Homo sapiens: one gene and its partners. The protein of the gene in region 2 interacts with the protein of the main gene of each other region in a biochemical or structural test. Each region holds a gene or a part of one and is shown on either strand. Other genes may lie near its edges.

Region 1 (7,985 bases), on a different chromosome or scaffold from region 2:
AATATACCCCACATCATTGCCCCTAAAAGGGACTATCTTGGTGACCCACTACCTACCACCCATGCATCTTGCAAAAAAAACAAAAAACAAAAAAAAAACACCCGCAGAGAAGTACAGACTCCATACAGAGTGCCCAAAAAACACAAGGTGCCCCAATGCTTAGCAACAGGGGACAACAGGGCAAAAAACAAAGACCAACATTTCAACGGCCTTCTCAGTTTTCCCAGCAAGGGGTAAAGAACTGGTGTAGTCTATTTTTGAAGAGACGTTAATAATACAGTGACGAACTTAGGAGGAAAAAAAAATTTAAAGGTTCTACCTGTGATAAAGTGGAAAAGAACTACACACACATACACACTCACATACACACTCACACACACACTCACACACTCACACACTCACATACACACTCACACACACACTCACATACACACTCACAAAAGGCCTGCACAGTGCACCCAGCACACAGTGGGGACCAGAAGAGGAGGTATTTGTTGAATGAATGAATGAATGAATGAATGAGCTCTCTCTGGGGAACTCTACAGCCGTTTCTATAAATTGTGTCCCCAGTCTCCTCATCCTCTTTGATTTCCGATCTAAATTGCCACTCTCCTCCCAATATCCCTTTCACTGCAATTTCCCTTCCAATTTGTGCCTTTATAGGGCCCTCTCCTCCTACACACAATTTTTTAAAGTGCATTTACTCAGCCAGCTAACAAACATTTTAGCACCTACCCTGCACAGCTAGATACTCACCCCATAAGTGGCCATGGGGGCACAGTCACTGCCCTGCTTACATTATGGCAGGTAATACAGTTATCAAACAAGTAATCACCATTAAAGGAATACAGTTAATCAAACAAGTAATCACCATTAAAGTAGGATGCACGTTGGGCCTGTGGTTCAGTCTATGAGGCAGAGGCAGCCTCCTGGAAGATGTTTTAGCTGAGAACTAAAGAGTTTTATCCCCTTCCATGAAGGTAGAGGAAGGAAAGTATTCCTGGCAATGGGCACATCACAGAACCCTTCCCTCCAAGCTGATGGGCCTGCCAGACCTCACTGCCAAGGGCCTCATTTATGTGACACTAACTCAGTGCCTGGCTATGAATAAATATTAGTTTAAAACAAACCAAACAACCTGCCCAGACAGGTATAGACAGGGTGAAACCTACACATATGTAGTACAGGTCAAGTCTAATTTTTTAAAAATAAAAGCTTCAGAACAAAAGCATATTCAGCTCTAACTGTATACACAGAGGCATGAACTTACTCTTGTGAGTGCTGAGATTTGACCTGAATCCAGGGTCAGGCTTTCCCACATGTCTTTAGCCAGCTTGCTGAAATGTGAAATTAGAAGCCTACAAGCTCTCCTTAAAGGAGACTGTCAGAAGCGGACCACAATGAATGTAGGGAGCAGGTGGATGAATCACCAGCACCATGTAAAACGCCAGTGCCTTTAAAAGCTACAGTAAGCCATCTAAATATAGATGAGAAAGAACGCAAGTGAGTAACAGACAAATGGTCTTACAGGAAAGCATTTTAAACTTGTGACAGCCACATTCAGCACATGTGGCTAAATATAAATATTCCATCACTGTTGCCATTCAGCCAACCGTCCTGAAGTAGCTTTCTCCAGCTTGGAACAACTAACACAGACAGGTATTTTGATTCCAGCGTCGTTTCCACAGGTCTTAAATGCTACATGGGTGATTGGTGTGGTTTCAAACGTGGCCCAAGTGACACTGCTATCAGCTACTATAACGGCCCCACCTCTCAAGACCCATGCGGAACAACCAAAGTTTTGTAAGAAAATGGCAAGAAGTGAAAGGAGGAACGGGAGGGTTAGCAGCCTTTCCTTGCAATGCCTCATCCTTCAATTCACCTATTCAGGTGGGTCATGAGCCTCTTTAGAGATAAAAAGCAAACTTTCTGTAAACAGGATGGAAAAGCTTTTAACTTCTGTCTCTAAAATGCAGAGCATTTTCAGTCTATGATTGGTACTTATGATCAACTGTGTGTCACTTGTCACCGAAAACCCAGAATATGAGTACAAGCTGATGTCAGGTTGCAGATGTCCGTGTCCCTGTTTAATAAAGAAAATGGGATTATTCACTATCTGACGCTTTTATCAGGTAGGCAGTAGGTGCACAGAACAAATCCAGCTAGTCATTCTCAAGAGAGGCACGGCGTTTGTCCAAGGTACCAGCTCAGATTAAAGACACTCATCCCTAGGGTTTATGCATCAACAGAGAATATGAGCCAGTCGTTCCCAGCAAGTAAACAACTGTTTGTGTGTGCCTCAGTTTCCCGATTCCCAGGCCGCCTCTCCCACAGGGAACCAACACACCCTATGAGAACTAGTCCGGCGCGCACGGCAGGGGCTACCCAAACACTTGTGGAGCGAATGGAGGAATGAATGGGCTCGGCAGGGACTCGCGAGGGACCCAAGTGCCGCACCACATGCCTCCTCCGCGGGCGAAGCGCCCTCCACCGACCGCGCCGCACGGCGCCCAGGGTCTCCCGCCACCTCTGCCCGGCCTGGCCCCGAGGCGCCTGGCGACAGCCTCCCCAACAAACGCGGCTCAGGTTTCCCGTCGCCTTCAATGCTCCTGGCTTAATAACCCTTGGCCCCTCGGGAGCCCGGCCCGTGCCCCGCGCCGCCCCGCACCTTCTCGCCCTCATCCGGGTTCTTGTCCGGGTGGTACTTGAGCGCCAGCTTCCGATAGGCCTTCTTGATCTCCTCCGGGGACGCGCTGGGCTTCACGCCCAGGATGTCATAGTACTGGGTCTCCTTCACCATCTTGTGTCTGCGGGGGGGGCGGGCGAGGCCGGTCAGAGCGCCCCGGACGCCCCTGCCGGCACCCTGGCCCGCGCCCCTGGCCCGCGCCCCCGCCGCCCGCTCGCGCGTCACGGTCACGGTCGCCGCCGCCGCCGCCGCTTGTAGCTCCCGCCCGCCCCCCGCCCCGCGCCGGACCGACTTCCACGCCTGGCTCCACCGCACTAGAGCCACCGGCTCCTCCGCGGCGGGTTTTATTCGGCGCCGGCGGAAGCTTCCGCAAGGAGACGGTGACGCCACAAAGGCCTAGAACCTTCGCGGAGGTTCCGGCGGCCCCGCGGCGGGTTCGCGGCCCAGACCCCCGACGCCCGTCCGGCGCGGCCCAGCCGCTCACCTGGGCTTCTCGGGCGTCTGCTCCTTTGGCTGCCCGTCTGATTCCCCGGAGCTCCAGCTCTGACTGCCGCCCCGGGCCATGGCGGGGGCCGGAGAAGGCGGCTTGGGCCTGGAGGGCGCCCTCCGACAACTGTCCCGCCGCCCCGAGGCCGCCCCCTTGCCCTTCCGTGGGTCCGTGGAGCCGGCTGGCTGGAGAGTAGGCGGCCTGGAGGGCTGTGTTGGCCGGAGCCCTGCGCCGAAGGGTGGGACTGGGAGAGCTGCGCCCTGCGGTCCCCACCCGGCCTCTCCCCGGGGGTGTGGCCGCCGTCTGTTCGGTCACAGCCAGGCTGCGGCCTAAGGTGTGCCTGGGATTGTTGCATTTTTTAGGGGGTTGGAGTGGGTAGGGGCCCTCTGCTGCCTCATGACTGCAAGGCTGAGGTGAACCTCTGGCCTTCCAGTTGAGGTACAGGGGTCCTTTGCTGGCCCCAGATGTGGACAGTATCCTCTCGAATGCCCACCACTGGGAACCCTTAAGTCCCTCAAGGTGAGCAGTGACGTCCCCCACATATGGGCAGTGACGCCCCCCAAGTCTGCCAAGGGCCGACAGTGCCCTCTCTTCTCCCAGAAGTGGGAAACTGCCCCCTCTCCTCTGCACATCATCAGTGAGCAAACATCAGGGCCCGACCAGGCTGTTGGGCCCAGTGTTATGCACAGGGGGTCCCATGGCCTGGACCCTGAAACGGCTAGGTGGCCCAGGATGCTTGCCTTGGAAGGGTACAGGAGTAGGTCCCGACTTCCCTAGGCTGCCCCCAGCTCCCAACGGGTGCTCAGGGAGTCCAGATCACAAACCGTTGCAGAAAAGTGGGCGTGGAAAGCAGGCCCCAACGCTATCACAGAATTGCAGGCCCCTGTCCCCTAGCCCTCCCTTGGCTTCTGCCAGGGGAACAGTTTGTCAGAAAGGGGGGTCACTGCTCACCTCCCTGGGATGCCCTGGCCTTGTTTTGGGTACTGTGGCTGAAGCAGGTACTACCTCTCCTCCATGTGTTCCATGGGGGTGAGAAGTGACTTGTACTGTACAAGAGAAATTAAGCTGCTCTTCTTGGAGATGTTGCTTTTTTTTTTTTTAAATTATGCCTTGTAGAGCAGAACCTTTAGGCAGAGAACTCAGAGCTAGAGGTCAGAAACTTTGTTTTCTATCCAGATCTTACTGTCTGAGCCTTAGCATCTCAACACTTTTCTTCGTCAGCAGGACATGGGGATTGCCACTTGCCTGCCTTTCTCACAGGGCTCTTATAAGCATCAAATGGGATGATAACTGTGAAGACTCCTAGCGCAGTGGGTCTCAAACCTGGCTCCTGACAGAGATCACCTGGAATCTTCTAAAAATCCCTCTGGGTTGCACTCCACACCTGTTACCTTAGAGCTTCTAGGGGTGAGGCCCAGGCATCAGTGTTTTTCAAGCTCCCCAGGTGGTACAGCCAGAGCCGAGATCCACTGCCCAGGGTCACATACTTGTCCAGATTTAGTACTCGGGACCATAGGCATTCGTAAAATGGGCATGTGCAGGAGAGGGATGGCTTAAAGACAGAGCCTAGAAACATAGAATGGAGCTATGCACTTTGGACGACAGTGAATTCTGGAACCAGTGAGACTTAGACCTAGGTTCAAATCCCAGCACTGCTACTTCTGGCTGTGGAACCTTGGGCAGACAACTTAACCTTTCTGAGCCTCAGTTTTCTTAACCTTTTAATGAGGATATTAATTATAACTACTTCATAACTTTGTGAAACACCTGGTATATAGTCACAATATTGATGCTTTTTGGGGGTGGGGGGGTGCGGGCAGGGGCTAAGGTATAGAAGCTGATAGTGATTCTCTTCTTGATGGAACTTAGCCAGGCTCCTATGAGCCCTCTTCTCAACTAGGCTTCAGTCTTGGCCTATAAAGACTGAACAGACAGCAACACAGTTTCTAATAATTCAACGTCACATCCTTAAGATCACCAGTTCCCAGGCTTTTTGGCACCAGAGACCAGTTTCATGGAAGACGATTTTGTCACGGACAGGGTGGTGGGGGTGGGCAATAATTCTATGATGAAGGCCTGGCGTGGTGGCTCACACCTGTAATCCCAGCACTTTGGGACGCCGAGGTGGGCAGATCACTTGAGGCCACGAGTTCAAGACCAGTCTGGCCAACTTGGTGAAACTCCATCTCTACTAAAAATACAAAAATTAGCCAGGGATGGTGGTGCTCGCCTGTAATCCCAGCTACTCAGGAGGCTGAGGCACAAGAATCGCTTGAACCCGGGAGGCAGAGGCTGCAGTGAGCTGAGATCACACCACTGCACTCCAGCCTGGGTGACAGAGCAAGACTCTGTCTCAAAAAATAAAAAATAAATAACAATAGGATTGTCTAGTAAAATCAGATATTTTTGGCCAGGTGTGGTGGCTCAGGCCTGTAATCCCAGCACTTTGGGAGGTCGAAGTGGGCAGATCACTTGAGCTCAAGAGTTTGAGACCAGCCTGGCCAACATGGTGAAACCCCGTCTCTACTAAAAATACAAAAATTAGCCAGGTGTGGTGGCACGTGCCTGTAATCCCAGCTACTCAGGAGGCTGAAATAGGAGAATCACTTAAACCCGGGAGGCAGAGGTTGCAGTGAGCTGAGACTGTGCTACTGCATGCCAGCCTGGGCAACAGAGAAAGACTCTATCTCAAAAAAGAAAAAAAAATGGAGGATGAAACTGTTCCACCTTAGATCATCAGGCGTTAGATTCTTATAAGGAGCATGCAACCTAGATCCCCCGCATGCACAGTTCACAGCAGATTTCAAGCTCCTGTGAGAATCTAATGCCACTGCTTGGTTCCTGACAGGCCACAGACCAGTACTGGTCCGCAGCCTAGGAGTTGGGGGCCCCTACCTAAGGTGACCCTGGCCCCACTACCCCCTCTTAAAGTGCCTGCCTGAGAAAACTCAAGGCTGCCAAAATATTTACTGTGTTTTTGTTTCATCCAACACCTGAGGATAGAGCTTCTGTCTCCCAGTCTCTTTGGGAGAACGGCATCCTAACTTTGGCAATTGGCAGCTAGCAGACACAGCTGGCCTAATGTCACTTACACTGACCAACCCTTTGTCATTTTTCACTTCCCTGATTCTGTTAAACTGCTGCTTGTCCTTCTCCCTATTCCCTCATGTTCTTTTCAAAATGCCCAATTACTTTTCGTACAAATCGATATTGAGCTCAGTTCATACTAGATTGTTTTCCCTATTGCAATAGTTATGACTGATTAAATTCTGTCCTTACAATTTTAACTACTGTTCAGCTTTGTTTATCTTAGACAAAGCCTCTGACAATCTAGTAGATTATTTCCCAGAATTATGCTTGGGAGGATTGGAGGCATTACACAGACATTTCTTATTTTGTCAGTTATGTGTTTATTTTCATGATGACCTTTTCATTACTGCAACTTTTATTAAAAGTGACACTGACTTTCCACTCACAGTAAGCAATGTATGGTTTCCTTTTTATATTCTTTTAAAAAAGAGTAGATAAATAGTAAGTGTATGATAGTACCTGTAGTACAAGAATAAAGCAACAGTGGTGATACTTGAATGACAGAAATTTGGGAAATGCTGATCCAGTTCTACCATCTCATTCTACAGTTGGGGAGACTTTTAGACAAAGAAGCCACATTATACAGAACAGCCATTGTCCCTTGATGCAGTGTGGGGCTTCCTTTCTGACCCAGTGTAGAAGGAGAGTCAAAGCAAGCACGGAAGTAGGTTTTACCCAAGGAATGCTGGGATGGGGTCTTCAAGGAGTCTTCTGAGAGGGAGAAGCCACACCTACCTGGGGAGGGGGGTCAGGAAGGACTTCATGGACGAGGGACATGTGCCATAGACCAGGAAGTTAGAGCTCCCTTTAGCAGCAGGGAAAGGGAGGGCAGCCATGCTGAACGGACAGCAGGATAAAGGCAGAGAGCACAGATGGATGAAGGCTCTGAATTGGAAGGGAAGCAGGGACAGGTGTGCTAGAGCCTTGAATGCCTTGAGGAGCAGTTTGCTGCTCTCCTGGGCCCTGGGGAGCCATTGAAGGTTTCAGAGCAGGACCTGCGTTCTGAGAGGTGTAACTAGCAGCAGACCCCGGGGGCTGGGTGGATCTGGACCTCCTGGGAGAGGCCCAAGCTGGGCATGCCGGTTTGTAGAGGCAAGCCCAGAGAGAGGGCATAGAAGGAGAAAGAGAGCTCCAAGGAAAAGCGTTGGGGAGCGCCTGTCTTTAGGAAGTGGAAGGAGCAACAGCCATCGGAGAAGCAAGAGGAGAACCCAGAAAGCAGAGAGGACCAAAATCATGCAAGGCCAGAGCAGCGAGGGGTAGAGGAGACAGTGCCTGGGTGGCAGAGAGGCTGGGAATGGGGGGGACCAGTACTTCAAGGGGAGGACATTAATTTATTGGCCCCCGAAACAGCAGTTGTCATTTCAGGCCATTGTTTTAATATTGGGAGGGATTTCCACTTGGAGAGGCCTTGCCCCTCACTGGCTGTGTGACCCTGGGCAAATTAGCTTTCTCTGAACATCCATTTCCTCCTTTGCAAAATGGGGATAAGAACATCTGCTTCACAGAATTATTGTACAGATGAATGGAGACAATGTGTAAAGGGCTTACCATGTGCAGAAAGCACGTGTTCTCACGATGAAATTTATTGATTTCATCACAACAGGATTTGTGCACAGCAGCTATGTGTCTGGCTCTGTGCTGGGAACCAACAATACAGCACTAGATTAAGGTTATGCCTGTCCTCGAGGAGCTCAGAGACTAGCTGCACCTCAACATCTGACT
Region 2 (7,029 bases):
GCAGCAGCATCAGGGGAAAGCATCTTAAAAATCAGACAGGACATGGAAAGTTACTAACAAGGCTTGGTGGAGACCTGAGGGCACCCTAGTGCTATTTCCATGACTTGCCTAAAGAAGTTACTTTTTTTTGAATTAACAGAGGTTGGAAGGTTTGATGGTAATTGAAACACGACCTGATAGGACTCAATTTTATTAATTTAAAGACATAAAGCTTGCATTATATACGCCACGTCTGCACATTTGCACTTCTTGAACGTTTGCTATCACATGTGAGGGAAACTTAATTAAGACTAAGAGTTATATGAAGAAAGTTAACTCCTCACAGAATTTTGATGGATGTGATTAATGAGTTTAATAGCTACAGATTTATGATTTTTCATCAACCTGTTGGCTAAGTGAAATACGAATTGCGTCAGTCCTTGTTACTTTAGGGGGATTCCGGGAGAATGGAAGGAAGGCCAGGGGCAAAATGCCGCTGCCCTGCTGTGCATAAGTCATTTCAGAGCATGCTCTGAGTGTTTGTCCTTGCCGAAAAGTGGCTTTACAGGCAACTACTTTAAAACAACTTGCTGCTTCCGTTCTTGGTCAGCTCTGTGATCCAGGCTGCCCTCTGTGGACACAGCACAGTTCTCCCTGGCCCTCTGCCTGTGTGTGCATGCACCCATGCATGCCAGGCACCCTGACTCAGTGACCCTGGAAAGCAGGATTGAGAATGGCTCCATCTGTGGGCTTTTCTTCCCCCATGAAATACAGTGCAGGACTGCAATGCTCTCAGACAATGTGCTGAGCCTGAACCATTTCTTAATTATCTACGTTTATAAGTGATTATCTCATAAAGTTTTTGTTTTGCAAAACAGATCTTTATTTAAACACAAACACAGGTTAACAACTCTTGAAAAAGCATACATAAAAATAAGTAAATGAAACAACCATTTCTGTTGTCTTCAGGAAAATATGACTGATACATTTAGAACTTTAGAATAAGATTCCCTCTGTGGGAGTGGAGACCCAAAGCCATTATAGGCATCCCAACAATTTGGCGGATTTATTGGTTTAACAGCTGATACATAAGAGAATCACAGAGTAAGGGCCATGGGGAAGCCAGACGGATGAGAGTTTCTCTGAAATGAGAAACCTCAGAGAAGAGACAGGGACAGTCTCCAGGCTGTTCCAGCGTTTGGTAGCACACTGTGCTCTGGCGGGGTCTTTTCTTTGGAGCTACCTCAAGGAGAGCCTTCTTGTCCCCTCCTTTGACCCCACAGGATAGAGGACAACTGCTCCCTGGCCTGGGGATTCTGTCAGACCACCCCTGATAGCGCTTCTCTCACCTTACGTGGCCGCAGACACACTTGCATTTGCTTCCTTCCTGTTGTGACCCTGGGCAAGGTAGCTAGCCTGTCTGATCTCAGTTTCGTCACCTGTAAAATGGGATCATAATGGCTACCCTGTCTCGCACCCATCCTCAATAAATGGCAGATGCCATCAGACGCCCCCCCGCGGATGTAACCTTTTCTACCGTATTGTCTTTCAGGCTCTGCACTCACTCGTCTCAACATTTCCCACGGCCCAGCTTCAGCTGTGAAGCCCACAGCCATAGACTGCTCTGATGTGCGGCCTCCCACACCCAGGCAGGGTACATCTGGGTCTGGGCAGCCACAGGACAGGGAAGGAAGGAGGAGGGAGCTTGCAGGGGTGCTTGTTAAAGGTGTAGCAGGGCAGGTACCACACACAGGGGCAGGTGGAGCGTCCAGGGGTCGCCCGAGGTGGTGCTGGTCAGAGAGGGTTGGCTTCGTCCTGTTCTGAGCCGAGGCTGCTGGAGGAGGGCAGAGGCCTATGACTGCATCGTGCTCCTGGTTAGGGCAGGAACAGCACCCTGGAATACCCCACTCTCCTCTTTACTCCTGAATTACAAAAAATACATCTTGTTCTTTAGCATAAATTATAAACATAAAAAATTCTTATGGTAGAGAAAACGTTTAAAAGTCATCACAAAGTCAATATAAATTGTTCAGATCCTAACCAACCACAGCAAATTCCTAACAATTGGGATATGTCTCTCCACCGTGTGTATCTGTTTGGCCTTGTATCTACCTACCTGTCCTGCTCTTCTCAGTTAGCATTGTTTTACAAGCATTTTCCCATGTTACTAACATTTTTTGATAAGCAAAATTTTTGTTTCATTATATTCTATCTAAAATATGTATTACCATTTTATAACCAATATCCTAGTGTATAAAGTGATGCTGCTTGCGATGTTTCACTCATTATATTGCAGTACACCATCTATTTAATTTTTTGAATACTTTTTATTAGTATTGGTGCCTAGAAAGGAATTATTGAGCCAATGGGTATATATATTTTTTAAGTCTTTGCCAAATTTAAATATTTGCCAATTTAAAAAATAATTACCAGATTATTCTCTGGAAGGATTATACCAGTTCTCCCTTTTTCTAGCCACATATGAGACCAGTTCCACACTACACCCATAACAACTCTGAATATTTTACTCTTTGAATCTTTGCCATTCTGACAGATAAGAACAGAATCTCATTTTTATTTGTACTTCTTTAATTTTAGTATTTCATTACATTTTTTTGTTTGTTTGCTGTGAACCCATTTTGGCTAGTGGTCCACTGTGACCTCTGGATTTTTTTTCTTATTTATACTTTTATTCTCTGTTTGGTCTAGCTTACTTTCCACATATTTCCCCTACTGAGCTTGGCCAAGACATGTTTTATAAAATTTCACATCGATTCCCATCTGTCCACTCTCCCACTCTTCATTTTCTTTCCTGTCAGCACATTCTCCCAGCTTTGCTTGTGTTTGTTGTTGAGTGTGAATAATTTATGTATACCCACTGATATCGCAGAAGCTGTTTTTAGTGATATCTTATCCATTTCTTCTGTGTCCTCAACAGTGACTGGCAAAGAGTAGAGGTTCAATAAGCACTTGTTGAAAACATAAACTTAAATTTTAATTATTTGAAATCATAAAGAGGAAGTTAAGATATCAGAGTAATGTAATTATCATTGTAGACTTCAAATAGAATTCTTATGTTTTTAGAGACATTTCTCCTAGTAAAATAACGTTAATTAAAATTGACTTAAATTGATGTTTAAGAAAGTATAAAAAATGTAGCTGTAGTATCTTGAATTCATAATCCAAACTAACATCATCCTAATAACTGCTTGTTATGTGCCAAGTCCTGTGCTAAACTCTCATAATGTCTCATGTGATCCTCACAGCAGCCTGGGTACTGCTGCTTTCTTACAGATAAGGACAAAGGATTAGAGAGGCGAAGTATCTTATACAAGTCACACAAATCTGTCTCCCTTCTCTTTATCATCTGATCTCTTTTTTCCTGCTATTCACCCTAGCTGTACATAGTGAATTACTGTGCAGAGAAACATGATGTATTAAGTGTTATGGAGACACATGAAATAATTGGATAATGAAAATTATTATCGCTGGTTACTTTATGTTATCTACTCTTCTGGGAAAAATCCCATAGGCAGCAATTCTTATACTCTAGGTGGCTAATCAAAACAAAGTTCTAGAAAATTCAAGAGGTAAAACTCTAGCACTGAATTCTATATTTGCTCAGTGACAAGAATTCTTTCCATATTTGGCGAGATCCAAGGGGCAGTGCTTCCAGATTCCAGATCAGCTGCTGATTTAAATTTCCTCATCCCAAGTATCAACTTCCTTGCACTCGTCTTGGGCGTCAATAATGAACACGCAGGTCAGAGTTTTCCATAAGGCCTTAACAAGTCTTTCAGCAGGGTGTTCATGGAATTAAACTCTGGGAAGAACGGTAATCTGCTGTTGTACACAGATAAGTACAGAGACATTTTGAAAAGAAATGCTAAGGCCAAGCAAAATGATTTATTTTTAAAGTGCCACATCAGAATCCAATCATAACATTAACCTCAGGGCTGTTACTTTAAACACGTTTGGTAAAAACAATGCTTGTCGAATTTTTGAAAATATAATAACTTTATGCAAAGATCCCGCACTCTTGCATTTAACACATTCCACTTTTTAAATCCTTCTGCCTTGATGATTTAAAATCTCCCTTGCTGGTTTTTTTGTTTTTTAAATTTACCAAGTATTGATACAGAATCAGCACTGAAGACAGGACCCTTCTGCTACCTCCACATTCACATTCCCCCCAAGGCCATTCATTCAGATCGTCAGCCAGCAGTGAGTTTCTCATCTCCATGCTCTTTGGGTTTCATCGGGTTTTATTGGGTCTTTTTTTTTTTTTTTTTAATTTTGACAGTGTGCACATGATGCTCACCTTTGAGGAAGAAGAAACTGTTGAAACAACACTTTAGAATCTGTCAACACAATTAGTTTGTGTCTCAATTTGAGGTAGATGTCCCAAGACATTGCTCCAAGTTAAAAAGAAAAAAAAAGTATGTGGTTTTGCATTGCGTAGTCCTCTTTGGATCCATACGATATGTGTGCCTTCCCTGACCTTCCAGAGAGCATCAAAAACATGAAGGTTGAATCCAGAGAGCACAGCCCACTTTTATCTTTGGCCCAGGGAGGCACTTGGTACTCTGTATTTCTTCGTGGCATCCTTAAAATAGCCTCTGTGGAAAAGGGATTGGCCTTATCTTCCGTGCAACGGATGGGAGGCATAGATATAGCTGCTGGCAAGGGGAAGTGGAAAGAGGCCCATCTGGGAGAGGGTGGCCCGGAGCTTTAGTTTGATGCTGCAGGACTTCCCCAGGTGAACGCACCTCTCCTGGCCCTAGCTCCCTTATAGGAAAATGGAGGTGGTCAGCTCCGCCTTCTCCACAGTGACCATCTGCTGACTGTGCTGCTGCCAGGACGCAGGGGGAGCTAACAGCAGTGCCCCTATCGGATCTTCAAACCGGGGAGGGGTCTCGTGCAGTGGGCAGGGGAAATGGGCTCCCACCTGGCTTTTGGGGTTCACTCCCTGGCTGTTCTACTTCCTGGCCATTTCACCTTTGGCAAGCCACAGCCTCACAGGAGATAGGCTTTTCCATCGGTGAAATGGGTAGAGTGATAGTTCCTACTTCACAGGGTTATAGTGAGATTCACCAAGTCGCAAGAGCCCAGAACTGTATATGGCACACATAAGCTCCTCAATCAAAGTTAGTTAATTTTACTATTCATTCAAGCCAAATACATTTTTCTTCTAAGACTAAAATCAGGGAATCTATGAAAAGCATTTCCCCCTACCTTTTTTTTTTCAATTTCTACAACAGTTTGTGAATTGAATTTTGTTTTCAATTAGCCAATTTGTCCATTTTCCTGTGATGAACATGTTTTTATCTCTTCATTATAAAGTAAGAACTCTGACAGACACAGTGAGCTCCCAATTATTCACGAGCACCTGATCTGCATTGGAGATTGCTTAAAACAGGGCTGGGAAATGCTTGCTGGTGAGTTCACCGGACACTGCACAGCAGGTCCTGGAAGGAGACATTCAGGGCGTTGTTAACTTCTGTGTCTCCCTATTCTTCTTATTCTCCTTCCATACTCTTTCTCTCTCATTGCAATCGCTATCCACCTGGAAGGCGGCTTGAAAAACACAAAAGACAACAAGGATGATGAGGGGGACCCCTCCTGAGCCTCTTAAATGCTGAGGGATCCTTCCTGGACCTGTTTTTATTCATTCCAAGCTGCCTCTCCTAGACAATCACTTCTCTTACCCCAGGAAATCTGGGACGGTGCAGGTTTGCAAGCTTGATCTGGAATAAAGAAACAAAGGAAAAGACGGACCAGGAGGCTTGGCCTACGCCAGGCAAAAGTCAGCAAAAGCAGCCACTACACATCTCCTTTTGAGTTCTAACTTTTCACTTTGTCTTGTGTGAACTCCTAAACTGGAAGCATATTTATAGTCACGTAAAAATAAGAATATTGTCCAAGGCCAAATGTAAGTGACTTTTATGAGTTATTGGACTTTGTGAATTACTCATTCTACCAACCTGAATTAACATAGATAGTTTTGTTGACTTTACCTTCTTTGTAAGCCAAACAGTATGAACTCGGTTAAGCCGGTCTTAGGAGAAAAGACATAAAATGTGTGTTGCTAGGATAGCATTCTAGTGAAGGAAGCCACTTCTTTGTTTCTTGTGCATCCCTGTGAGGGTACCTCTGTCCATCCCAAGAGCTGTTTTCATGGACTCACTGTTGAAAGCCCAAGCCTATTGTAACCAATTTTGATAAGCTGGTTACAAAATAAGCACATGTATACATTTTTTAAAGCCTTGTTCTTCTGGAGATGGAAAACATCTTTTTTTAGATCACATGTTTACTGCTTTGGTAAACAGTAAAATGCTGCTACAGCAATTACCTTGAGGATAAAGGGTTTGTAGACAGATACTTCCTGCGTTCACTTCCTACACAGATAGCCAGCCCAACCAGAGACGCACTGATGCAGGAAGGGCTCCCAGTGGAAACTTCCTCTCTCCGAATGCGTGGTCCATTATTCGTTATCTCCTCTCCAAGGGGAATAAGCTTGTTGCTCCAGATTTTCTAGGAGAATTCTGTCTTGAAACAGGTAAAAATATAAAGTTTCTAAAGTAATGATTACAGTACCTCGTTCTCATCCTCGGTGTCATCTACTCGGTGATTTTTAAGGGGACGTGATTAGACTAGAATAGACTTGTCTATGAGTAACATGCCCCGTAGGCACCTCTGTCTCCTTTGAATCATGGAAAATGATGCATAATTCGAATGTTTTTATATTTGGTAGAAAAATAAGTCTCTTTGAGATTCAATGGAAGGCCTTTTCTATGGTTAGTTGAAAGGTCATTTTAGATTTTGCTTTCTTTAGTCAAGCAGAGATTACCAGATTTGGGTACAAAAAATATCAGCTCACAGATTGTTCTCTGTGCTGATTTTACAGCAGTTACTAAATTCCAACGAATGCATTGTTTAGGCCCTTTGAACCGAAGCAAATAAAACCACAGTGCACACACACTAAACAATAGGGCATCATCAATTAGCCATCTACAGGATGTGTCCTTGCAGACTGGCCCCTTTGTAGGA
Region 3 (7,029 bases), on a different chromosome or scaffold from region 2:
GGAATGCTGCTGTCTCTCAAGGTCCTGGGGCAGGGAAGGTGGAATTGTCTGCTGCCTGGGGACCTGCAGGGGGACCCAGGTCTGGCCCCTAAGCGGCTCTCCCAACCGAGTCCCCTTTGGCATTCCTTTGGGATCTGATTGTCCAGCCCAGGGTGGGGCCCTGGGGTCAGAACCTGGGTTCCAGACCTGGGCATGAAGGACTCCAGATCCTCCTCTCCCCAGTCAAATAGGGCTGGGTCTTCCTACTCCTCCATGCCCCATCTCCACCCGGGTCATTGTCAGGTGCCCCCACGGAATGGGGACAATTTGCATATATTTGGGAGGCCTCCCTATTCTTTCCCACAGCATGGGCAGACCCCAGAATGAGACTGGGGTGGGGGGGGGGGCCTGGCATAGGTGTGGTGTCCATAGCAGGGGTGGGTGATGGGGGCTTCCAGAGGGGGGTGGAACAAGATTTGAGAAGATGTCAGTTTCATACATGTTAAAAAAACAAAAACAAAAAACCAACACTCCCTCCTCCACCCAGGGATGACGGCACCCCCTTTTGTGAACCCAAACTGCAGAGATGGGCACGGAATCCTGCTTCCTGGTGTTTTTGTCTTACTCTGTCTGCAGCAAGGCGCCTGGGAATTTTGCCCTACAGGGACCCTGTAGCTTTTCCAAGAAACAGGGAGGCGGGGAGAACTAAACCATCCACAACATGCTGCCTGGTATGGGCTTTTGCCTGCTGTACTCAGCCAAGGTGCCAAGTGAGCCAAGGAGGCAAGCTCGGGGTGAGAAGGGTGGCGTCCAGCCCAGGACTCTGGGCCCCCGGGTGTGGGCTGTGCAGGGACGCGATGGTCCCAATAGTGATGGGGCCACCCACTCCCTTTGCCTCCGGTTGCTCCTAGTTCCTTGGCAAGACAGATTTGCTCAGGAGTGGGGCAGAAAAAAAAAAAAAGCTAGAAATCAGCTACATGAATGCTGTGCACAGCCAGCCCGGGCTCTCTGGCCAATGCATATTACTTAAGGGCAATGTCGTGGCCAGCTGTGGTGGTCTGGGCTCTCCCTCTGTATCGCCTGGGGAGGCTGCTGAGGTGACTTTTTGGAAGAAAACACGGGATGAGTGTATGATGGTGGCTGTGGAGACCACCCAAAATCCCGGGGTTGGGGGCAATAGTGAATGAATGGGACCATCTGCGTGGGTCCCTACACGAGATGCTTGGAGGGGCTGGAGGTGGTGAGGGCTGCAGGAATGGCCTAAGGTTGGAGAATCCCAGCCCTGGGTCCTCCCTGCCTGGCTGCCCCACTAACCATCTGGCTATTGTCTTAGCTTTGGTCAAGTAAAAAGCAAAGGAAGCTGGAGTTAAAAACAAAAAGAAAAGAAAAAAAAAAAGAACAAAAGAAAATAAAATCAAGGACAAGACAACAGCATGCTCAGCCACCGGACCACAGCCTGTGACTCGGTGCCACCTGGCTGTCCCTGTGCCCTGCCGGACCCTCGGCTGGGCCTCCAATGGCTGAGCCAGGCCCATGGGTACAGACAGACAGACAGATATTGCATATATCAGGTTTTGTTTTTGTTTCATACAGGATACCCTTCATATTCACAGCTGGAAGACAGAGACAGGGGATGGGGGACAAAGGAGAAGGTGGGAGAGAATGCCACCTGGGGTGGTCTCTGGATAGGGGAAAAGAGGTCCTTTGGCAAGAAGGGTGGGGATGCACGGGGCAGGGGAGAGGGGGTGCCTCTGAGGTGGGTGTGGAACAGCATTTGACCCTGAGCCAGGGGTATGCCAGCCTGCATGAAAAGTGGGGAGCGGGGAGTCTGGCTGCGGGTGGAGTGGCCACCCCATGGTTGGAGGACAGCCTGCAGTGGGTCGGTGAATGGTGTCTGGGGGCCGGCCCGTGGCCTAGGGACCAATCAGAGAGGAGAGCCCTTTCCCAGGGCCAAGATGGGCCCCGGAGGTCTGTCCTCTGGGCAAGGGATTCAGAAATGACCCCTCTGGGTACCCAAGAGCAGGGTTGGGGGTGGTAGAGGCTGAGCACCAGGGGGCACCCCTGAATACAGCAGGAGGGGAGACAGGACCAAGGACAGCCAGGGGCTGGGTAGACCTGGGGGCAATTGTTTTCAGTGGCTTGATTTTTAGCGTGGTTTTTCTTCCTTTTTTTTTTTTTTTTTTTTTTTTAGATTCTCACTTTCTTATTTTTTATTTTATTTTTTTTACAAATAGAAATACATCCCTTTTCAATTTTTATTTTTTATTTCATGTCACTGTTTTGTCTTTTTTTTTTTAAACTACACGAGCAGAACATGCAGCTATGTGTGTGCGCTGATATTGTTTAAAGGTAATACTTATTCTCGGAAGGCAAGGCACATCTTGTGGTAGAAAATTTCGTGCAAATTAGGAAACATGGAATTTTTTTAAAGGTTTTTCTTGTATCTTTTTTTTTTTTTTTTTTTTTTTAAAGAGGAAGTGGGGGGTGGAGGGGGCGAGGAACAGGGAGATAGAGCCAGGGATAGTCTGCCATGCATGTGTGTCAGCGCCGCCAGCTGACCTCGGGAGCCAGGTCGCAGGAGTCCTTGACTAAGCACCATGCAAAGTTAGGTAAAGAGTTGGTTCTCGTCGCGCCCTGACCCCTCTGGAGCCCGGCTGGCCTCCCTCCCCCACTCCACGACCCCCACCCTGGCTGAGAAGCTTCCGGACACCCCAATGGCACAACCCGACCACCCCCTCCCCCGCCCGCCCTCCCGGAGAGCGGCCCACGCTTTGATCCCCAAGGGCCACCGGGGGAGCGGGCCCCGAGGACAGACGGACGGAGGGACCAAGGGCTCGAGGCCAGAGGATGGCGAACCTCTCTTGGGGGTGATGGGGGAGGGTCCTGGGTCTTTCTCTTTAGGAGCGAGCGGGTTCGCCAAGCTCCTGAGGCTAGTTTGGGAGGAGAGTCTGGTTTTCGGGGGCAGGGGGGTGAGGCTAGGAGCAGGTGAGACCCGGAGACCTGCCCTGGCTTTGGCCTGGGTCGGGGGAGGGGGCAGTGGTGGGGGGAGTTTTTCCCTAGGCATGGAGGTCAGTTGGGGCTGGGCTGGGTGGGCCGGGGAGGGGTCCTTGTGTTTGAGCTCGGTGGCCCTAAAACACCTAACACCCCCTCCCAGGCCTCCCCTAAAGATGGCGATCCTGGGGTGGGGGTGGAGGTGTGGATAGGGCCAGGGAGCCGGGGTGGGGGGGCACCTGGCGTCCCCAGCTTAGTGTTTTTGGAGCGGCTCAACGGAAAAACGCTTAGCAGATGGGAGGCCCCCTACACGGCTGCGGGGGGCCCCAAGGTGCGACGCCGAACCCCCCGAAAACCCTCCCCGTTCCGAGCGGGGACCGCTGGCGTCGGCCTCCTCTCTCCTCTGGGGGCCCAGCCGTGATGCACGTCCCGCAGCTGGGCCCCGCGTCGGGGTAGGCGATGAAAGTGCAAACGGCGGTCCCCCTTCGCTGGGAGGCACCAGGGAGGGGGGTCGCTCCAGAATGTAAGGCACTGGCAGCGGAGGCGTGGGGGGCGCACCGGCTTCCCCAGAGCCCACCCCCGCGCCCCGGCAGGGCAGGACGCTTGCGAAGTGACGCCCAGCTCTGCCCCTCGGGCCACGCAGGGGCCCCATCTCTCTAGCTCTGGGGGGGCACGGCGATGAGGGTTGACTGGAGGGGCTGGTGGAGAGGCTGGAGGGGAGGGGGAGGAGGCCCGCGGCCATTCCGTGTCCCAGCTGGACAAAGGGGGGGGCGGGTGGTGGTAATCAGGCACTTAAACCACTCGCTCTCACCTCCCACCGCCAGGGGCTGACGGGGGCGCTCCAGACGGGCACCCCCAACTCGGGGAGCTCTGGGTGTCCGGGCTCCCCCATCCCCTTCCTCGGAAAGTGCATTTCTTACAGTGTGTGCAATGTGGGTCCCTCCCTTTGGGGGTGTGAGCCGGGCGAGGTGGGGGGGCCTCCTATGCCGGGGGTGGGGGGTGGAGGGGCCGGGGCCAATTGCATAGAGACTTCTCCTCCCAAACGGGCGGGCGCGAGGGCTGAAAGAGTCCCCAGCGAGACAGCGAGTCGGCCGGCGCTTTGGGAGGGGCTTGTGGGGAGGCCCCGCGGCAGGCAGGGCCCCCTCGAGGGGCAGCAGGTGCCTGGGCCTCACTTCCTCCCCTGGCCAGGGCTCGCAAGCGCCACGCACCCCCGCGACACCACTCGCCTGCCCCACCCTGCCCGCCTCTGCGGTCTCCGCTGCCCGGCCGGGGTCCGCTGTGTCTCCCTTTCCCCCCAGTGGCTGCGTCCTCGGTGGGGGCTGAGGGGCCGGTCCGTGTCCGGCAGAGGCGCGGGGGCCCGGGGAGAGGTGGCCTTGCTGGGTGTCGCGCCTGTCGGCCCTGGGCACAGGCTCCAGGCTGTGCTCACCTGGTCTCCGGACAGAGCCAGGGCCTCCGGGGCGCGGGCGGGCGGCCGGCGTCTGTCCTTCCCGAGCAGCAGGCGGAGAGGAGATGAATAACTTAGGAAGACGCCCTGTCCCGGGTCTCCCGTGGGGGTGGCGGGGCCTGGCCCTCCAGTCCTGCGGCCTTGGCGTCCCGAGAGTTGGAAACGTTGCGTCTTTACCTTTTGTCTTCTTGCTTGGGTGGGTTTTTATTTCTTCTTCTTCTTCTTCTGCCTTTGTTTTTTCTTTTCCTCCTGAGTGTGTGCGTCTATGTGTTTTGTCTTTTTGGCCGGGCTGGGAGTCGGCAGGGGTGTTCTTGTTCACTCTAATTTTCCACCGAAAACGTGGGCCGGGGGCCGGCTGTGCTGCCCCCTGGGATTCCTGGGACGATGGAGAAGGGGCGAGGGAAGAAGACCTTTGCTATCCCAGATACCAGGACTGAGTGGCCCAGTGGCGACAGAAAGAGGGAGAGAGAAAAAGGGAGAGAAGTCGAGGGGTCAGACTCTGCTGCAGACATGGTTTACCTCTTCCCACGCTCACCCCCCACCTCCTGCAACCCTGTGACCTCAGTTTCCCCATCCCAGGCTCTAACAACCTGCTGGGTGACCCATGGCAAGTGACTTTGTCTCTGAGGGAGGCTTCCAGACACAGTACAGGATGCCCAGTGAAACTGGAGTTCTGGTTAACACAGAATTCTTTTAGTATAAGTCTAGCCCACGCAACATTGGGGATATACTTACACACCACACACAAAAGATCCATTTATCTGGAACTGTATTTTATATTTTATTTATTATTTTATTTTTTGAGATGGAGTTTCGCTCTTGTTGCCCAGGCTGGAGTGCAATGGCGTGATATTGGCTCACTACAACCTCTGCCTCCTGGGTTCAAGCAATTCTCCTACCTCAGCCTCCCGAGTAGCTGGGATTACAGGCGTCCACCGCCACACCTGGATAATTTTTGTATTTTTAGTAGAGATGGGGTTTCACCATGTTGGCCAGGCTGGTCTCAAACGCCTGACCTCAAGTGATCCACCTTCCTCGGCCTCCCAAAGTGCTGGAATTACAGGTGTGAGCCAGCACTCCCAGTCTGGAACTCAATCTTACTTTATTATATTATATTATTTATTTATTTATTGAGACAGAGTCTCGCTCTGTTGCCAGGCTGGAGTGCAGTGGCATGATCTCGGCTCATTGCAACCTCTGCCTCCCAGGTTCAAGTGATTCTCCTGCCTCAGCCTCCCGAGTAGCTGGGATTACAGGCGCATGCCACCACACTCAGCTAATTTTTATATTTTTAGTAGAGACAGGGTTTCACCATGTTGGCCAGGATGGTCTCACTCTCTTGACCTCGTGATCCGCCCGCCTCGGCCTCCCAAAGTGCTGGGATTACAGGCGTGAGCCACTCTGCCTGGCCTTTATTTTATATTTTAAAAATTATTTTCTTCTCTATTTATTATTTATTTATGAGACAGAGTCTTGCTCTGTTGCCCAGGCTGGAATGCAGTGGTGTGATCTTGGCTCTCTACAACCTCCGCTTCCTGGGTTCAAGTGATCCTTGTGCCTTAGCCTCCCAAGTAGCTGGGATTACAGGCCCGCCCCACCACACCCAGCTAATTTTTGTATTCTTAGTAGAGACCGGGTTTCGCCATGTTGGCCGGGCTGGTCTTGAATTCCTGGCCTCAAGTGATCCGCCCACCTTGGCCTCCCAAAGTGCTGGGATTACAGGCGTGAGCCACTGTGGCCAGCCAATTTATTATTTTATTTTGAGACAGGGTCTTGCTCCGTTGCCCAGGCTGGAGTGCAGTGGTGCCATCATAGCTCACTGCAGCCTCCATCTCCTGGGCTCAAGTGATCCTCCCACCTCAGCCTCCCGAGTAGCTGGGACCACAGGTATGTTCCACCACATCTGACTAGTTTTTTTTTTTTTTTTGTAGAGGTGGGGTTTCGCCATGTAGACCAGGCTGGCCTTGAACTCCTTCCTCCCAAAGTGCTAGGATTACAGACATGAGCCACCACATCAGCTGCCTTGTTCACTTTATAAAGAGGTTTTTTGTTGATTTTTTGAGACAGCGTCACGCTCTTGTCACCAGGCTGGAGTGCAGTGGCACGATCTTGGCTCACTGCAACCTCTGCCTCCCGGGTTCAAGTGATTTTCTTGCCTCAGCCTCCCGAGTAGCTAGGATTACACGCATGCGCCATCACACCCAGCTAATTTTTGTATTTTTGGTAGAAACGGGGTTTCTCCATGTTGGCCAGGCTGGTCTCAAACTCCTGACCTCAGCTTATTCGTTTGCTTTGGCCTCCCAAAGTGCTGGGATTATAGGCATGAGCCACTGCACATGGCCTTGAGAATGTTTTTAAAAAGTAAACAAGAGGCTGGGCTCGGTGGCTCATGCCTGTAATCCCAGTACTTTGGGAGACCAAGGTGGGTGGATCACCTGAGGTCAGGGGTTCGAGACCAGCCTGGCCAACATGGTGAAACCCTGTCTCTACTAAAAATACAAAAATTAGCCAGGCGTGGTGGCACGTGCCTGTAATCCCAGCTACTCGGGAGGCTGAGGCAGCAGAATCGTCTGAATCCAGGGGGCGGAGGTTGTAGTCAGCCAAGATCGTGCCAT
Region 4 (5,164 bases), on a different chromosome or scaffold from region 2:
TGGCAGGCCCTGAGGCAGGAGAATCACTTGAACACAGGAGGCAGAGGTCGCGGTGAGTTGAGATGGCGCCATTGCACTCCAGCCTGGGCAAAAAGAGCAAAACTTGGTCTCAAAAAAAAAGACTAATATTTTACAAATGTCTGAAGATAATGGGAAATGTTGTCAAGCTCAGGCTTTTGATGCTGTCATTTGAGAAGGGTATTAAAGATGTTTTATTTATTTATTTATTTTTTTTGAGATGCAGTTTCGCTCAACAGGCCCAGGCTGGATTGCGATGGTGAGATCTTGGCTCACTGCAACCTCCAACTCCCAGGTTCAAGCAATTCTCTCACCTCAGCCTCCCGAGTAGCTGGGATTACAGGCGCCCACCACCACGCCCAGCTGATTTTTGTATTTTTAGTAGAGACGGGTTTCACCATGTTGGCCAGGCTGGTATCGAACTCCTGACCTTAGGCAATCCACCTGCCTCGGCCTCCCAAAGTGCTGGGATTACAGGCATGAGCCACCGCGCCCAGCCTAAAGATGTTTTATTAATGTGGGTTGGAAAAGGAAAGTCTAAGCATGAGAAGGAGGAAGTGGGCTGTTAACGTTAAATATGAAAGGCTGTGTTCACTCACAATATGCCAGGAAATATTATTTCAGGTTCATCAATGAGGAAATTGTTAGAGTCCCTTTAAATTGGACATATCCTCATTGTTTAATTTCATAGAGCCTAAATTATCTAGGACCCTGCCCAGGCTAGAGTGCAGTGGCACGATCTCAACTCACTGCAATCTCTGCCTCCAGATTCAAGTGATTCTCCTGCCTCAGCCTCCCGAGTAGCTGGAACTACAGGTGCGCGCCACCATGCCTGGCTGATTTTTTGTATTTTTAGTAGAGATGGGGTTTCACCATGTTGGCCAGGCTGGTCTTGAACTTCAGACCTTAGGTGATCCACCCTCCTCAGCCTCCCAAACTGCTGGAATTACAGATGCGAACCACAGTGCCTGGCCTAACCCTCACTCTTGTGAGTTGTTTTTTTTTTTTCCCCTCTGAGAAACCAGATTTAAAACTAGGTAATGAAACAGTTCACTGATGGTAAATGGTAAAGGCTGCCTAGAGTGTGTGGAATGACTTTGAATCCTTAACTAGGAAACGGGGCTGGCAGGTTGCACATGTTTGCTCTTCCCAGATCTCTGCTCTGCTTGATTTTTACAATGGGGGAAGAAAAGGGTGTCTTTGTAAAAGACCCTTTGCTTTTATTAAACAAAAAAACAGCCTGCTTTGGTACATCTACTGATTCGTGATTTGAAAAATATAAATATGTGTCATATTTTATGCAGACGAGGAGAAGACCTTTTCATGTGTATGGACATACAGCTCGTTGAAGCACTGTGTGGCTTCCAGAAGCCAATATCTACTCTTGACAACCGAACCATCGTCATCACCTCTCATCCAGGTATGGGAACTAGGCAAGCTTAAACTTCTCTTTTCTATTCTAGTATTTTCCTTGTCTCCTGTTAACAAAGTGTAGTATAGGCACTGAGGGAAACCCATTGTTTTTCTTTCTCGGTTACATATCCTTCTCTGGGCTTAGATGAAGTTATAAGGTCTTGGCTCTCTTGTCAGCCCTTGGAAAACCCATAAGTGAAAGGTAACAGGATTGCTTTGCCACGTAAGTTTTACTCCTGCCAATGAGCTAGGACAGTGCTCTGTTCTTTATATTCCCTGCCTCATAAAAATGTGACCATACTTAAGGAAGAACTTGGCTTCAATGTTTTTAGGTCAGATTGTCAAGCATGGAGATATCAAGTGTGTACTAAATGAAGGCATGCCAATTTATCGTAGACCATATGAAAAGGGTCGCCTAATCATCGAATTTAAGGTAAGCTGTAATGTACTTTAAGAATACTTGAGAACAATTGGCTTACTAAAATCTGATAAAAAAGTAAAATTTCAGCCAGGTGCAAGTAGCTCATGCCTGTAATCCCCGCATTTTGAGAGGCTGAGGCAGGAGGATCCCTTGAGCCCTGGAGTTTTGAGAACAGCCTGGGCAACATAGTGAAACCCTGTCTCTTTAAAAAAACAAAAAAAAAAAAAAATTAAAATTTCTGAATGCCTCAGAACCTGAAACTTACATTTTTCCACAGCAAGAAATATATGGATCTGGCCACGTGCCACTGGCACACACCTATAATCCCAGTGCTTTGGGAGGCCAAGACAGGTGGATTGCTTGAGCTCAGGAGTTAAAGGCCAGCCTGGGCAACATGGCAAAACCCCATCTCTACAAAAAGTACAAAAATTAGCCAGGCATGGTGGCACACACCTGTAGTCCCAGCTACTCGGGAGGCTGAGGTGGGAGGATTGCTTGAGCCTAGGTGGTCAAGGCTGCAGTGAATCAAGATCGTGTCACTGTACTTCAACCTGGGTGACAGAATGAGACCCTGTCTCAAAAAAAGAAAAAAGAAAATTTACCTAATAACTACTTCTGTCATGTTGAGCATTCTTTGTTAACAAGTTGAGGATGGGGTTTTTTGCATCATTAATTGGATATTTAAAGATAGGTTGTGGGAAGGGTGTGTGGGACAAGTGGGTATTTTACTAATGAAAGGTTGTAACTGGCATCTTAAAGTTGAGAGGTGCTTTATAATAATTGCAGATTTCTTGGCAAAATAGTGTAATGCTTGATTTGTTAATAGGTATAAAGCAATCCAGTCATTTTCCTGAGTCTTAAATTGGCCTGTCACCATAAAAATATTAATTAAAACTTTTTTTTTTTTTTTTCCTTTTTGAGACGGGAGTCTTGTTCTGTCACCCAAGGTGGAGTGCAGTGGTGCGATCCTGGATCACTGTAACCTCCACCTCCTGGGTTCAAGCAGTTCTCCTGCCTCAGCCTCCTGAGTAGCTGGGAATACAGGTGCCCGCCACCACGCTGGGCTTTTTAGTAGAGATGGGGTTTCACCATATTGGCCAGGCTGGTCTCAAACTCTTGACCTCAGGTGATCTGCCCATCTCAGCTTCCCAAAGTGTTGGGATTTGTAATCCCAATTGTATGAGCCACCGCGCCTGGCCTAAAAACATCTTTGGTAAGGAAGAACTACCCTTTTGAGAGTAAGAATAGCTTTGTTTAAATATGTCGTAAGAAGGGTTAGGCTGTTGCAGGATGGGTTTTGGTATTAAAAAGTCAGTTTGCTGGATAGAACAATGGTTGTTAAAGTGCAGTTTTATTTAATACAATCATTTTTAATAAAGCCTGACTTCTGGTCATAATCCTTGAACTCTAGTTCAGAGTGTGCTATGCACTGTGCCTTTTTAGAGCCTGTTCTAACCTGAGATTGGCAGATTCACCTAAATATTACGTGTTTACATGTGTTTTTCTGGGGAAAATGGGTCCATGATACTCTAAGGGAGCTAATGATGAAATCAGATTGAACAGTGAAAGTTTCTTTTGAAGGTAAACTTTCCTGAGAATGGCTTTCTCTCTCCTGATAAACTGTCTTTGCTGGAAAAACTCCTACCCGAGAGGAAGGAAGTGGAAGAGACTGATGAGATGGACCAAGTAGAACTGGTGGACTTTGATCCAAATCAGGAAAGACGGCGCCACTACAATGGAGAAGCATATGAGGATGATGAACATCATCCCAGAGGTGGTGTTCAGTGTCAGACCTCTTAATGGGCCAGTGAATAACACTCACTGCTGGCATTTAATGTGCAGTAGTGAATGAGTGAAGGACTGTAATCATAATATGCTCACTACTTGCTCTTGTTTTTGTTTTAATAAACTATAGTAGTGTTTTAAAAAGTTAAATGAAGAATAAACGCAAATATAAAAGCTCTGATTTTGCCCTGTATGTATGATGACTTCAGTGTGCAAGATGAAGTTTAATACCTGTAAAAACTACAAAGAAGTTCCCCTAGCATTTCTAGGCCAAACCTTGTAATTGACTTCAGCTATGTACGTGGACAAGCTTAGACTGAAATGCTAGGTATATGTATTGGCTTCAGTGTATGACCCTTCATTGTTAAGCTATGAAAGTAAAACTCTGTATTTAACTGGCAATGAGGAAAAAAAAATTTTGTAGAGAAGTGTTGGTCTGTATAGTTCTTTATATTAAGTGGGATTCATTGTAATGCCTCTGCATTTATTCTGTTGCCTCAGCTGTTACTTGAAGATGGCGTAATATATAATTTATCCTGTGGTATCAGTGATAAAAATGATACCTTTCTGTAGGAGGGGTTTATCATAATATGCTGCTTCTTGAAGGCTTGCACTTCCAGAATTGTGTTTCCTTCTGCTGTGCCATTCATATATATATACATATATATATATAATCTTGACCAGTCCTGGTCATTTGCTCCCCTCCTTGTCTGTGGACCATGATAAGCCCAAGTAGTGACTTCAGAGCTGGGTAACAGAAATTAAAGTGAAAAGACCTTTACGTGGAGAATTTGCATGCGTAATATAGGAAGGTGTTCTTTAGGTATGTTACAGGATTACTTTAAACCATTTGACTTTCGCTCCAAAGTTATGTTGGTAGTATAGCAAATTATGATGAATAGCTTTAATTGTATGTTTAAAAGTCTCATATGTTCACATGCTTAAATCTGGGTATCAGAATTTAAGCAATTCTTGAAATGTATTGTCTCCTTAATATACTAATTACAAAGCATCTCCAATGTGTGTCACTACAGGCTTTTTTTTCCCAGATCATCAAATTTTGGCTTTTAACTAAGATACATAGCTTTATTTTAGCTAGTCTGAATGAGTGATACAAAAATACTATTGAACTATAGTTAAATAATATTAAATAGGATGGAGAGTAAAAGTGGAGGACTGGGTAATGAGCCAAGAAGAAGGGGACTTAGAAAACTGCAAACATTGGAGTGAGCATGAGAGAACAAGTTCTCATAAAGAATACAAGTTTAAAAAGGAGAAAAACTTTAAAAAATAAGGTTCCCAAACCATCAGTGTTTGTCAACTTCCTTTTAGTCTGTGCCAGCCACCCACAGCTACCCTAAAGTTGGAGATGTGAAGCAGATGTTCAGGAAAGTATAATTGATCGGTGTTCAAAAAAGTGCTTTGTGACAGATTTCACTTTTCACTGGGTTTATGTACAAATTCTAAAAATCTCTGAACCTGTATTTTAATGCATTTAAGAGCATTGTTTAGGCCAGGCATGGTGGC

The links.
Region 1: the proteins of ERG (region 2) and DNAJA4 form a complex in vitro, tested with the Homo sapiens proteins (one study listed by BioGRID).
Region 3: the proteins of ERG (region 2) and NFIC form a complex in vitro, tested with the Homo sapiens proteins (one study listed by BioGRID).
Region 4: the proteins of ERG (region 2) and DNAJA1 form a complex in vitro, tested with the Homo sapiens proteins (one study listed by BioGRID).

What each region holds. Positions count from the first base shown.
Region 1 is NC_000015.10:78,259,579-78,267,563, reverse strand, and holds the start of DNAJA4 (dnaJ homolog subfamily A member 4), read right to left. Parts: upstream 3,003-7,985; 5' UTR 2,808-3,002; coding exon of another isoform or gene 2,801-2,807; coding exon 2,669-2,800; intron 2,084-2,668; coding exon of another isoform or gene 2,030-2,083; exon of another isoform or gene 1,927-2,029; intron 1,347-1,926; exon of another isoform or gene 1,322-1,346; coding exon of another isoform or gene 1,271-1,321; exon of another isoform or gene 1-1,270.
Region 2 is NC_000021.9:38,488,449-38,495,477, reverse strand, and holds part of ERG (transcriptional regulator ERG), read left to right. Parts: intron 1-7,029. UniProt on the Homo sapiens protein: Transcriptional regulator. May participate in transcriptional regulation through the recruitment of SETDB1 histone methyltransferase and subsequent modification of local chromatin structure.
Region 3 is NC_000019.10:3,460,570-3,467,598, reverse strand, and holds part of NFIC (nuclear factor 1 C-type), read right to left. Parts: intron 4,848-7,029; coding exon 4,830-4,847; 3' UTR 1-4,829.
Region 4 is NC_000009.12:33,035,252-33,040,415, forward strand, and holds the end of DNAJA1 (dnaJ homolog subfamily A member 1), read left to right. Parts: intron 1-1,322; coding exon 1,323-1,438; intron 1,439-1,763; coding exon 1,764-1,864; intron 1,865-3,433; coding exon 3,434-3,652; 3' UTR 3,653-4,656; downstream 4,657-5,164.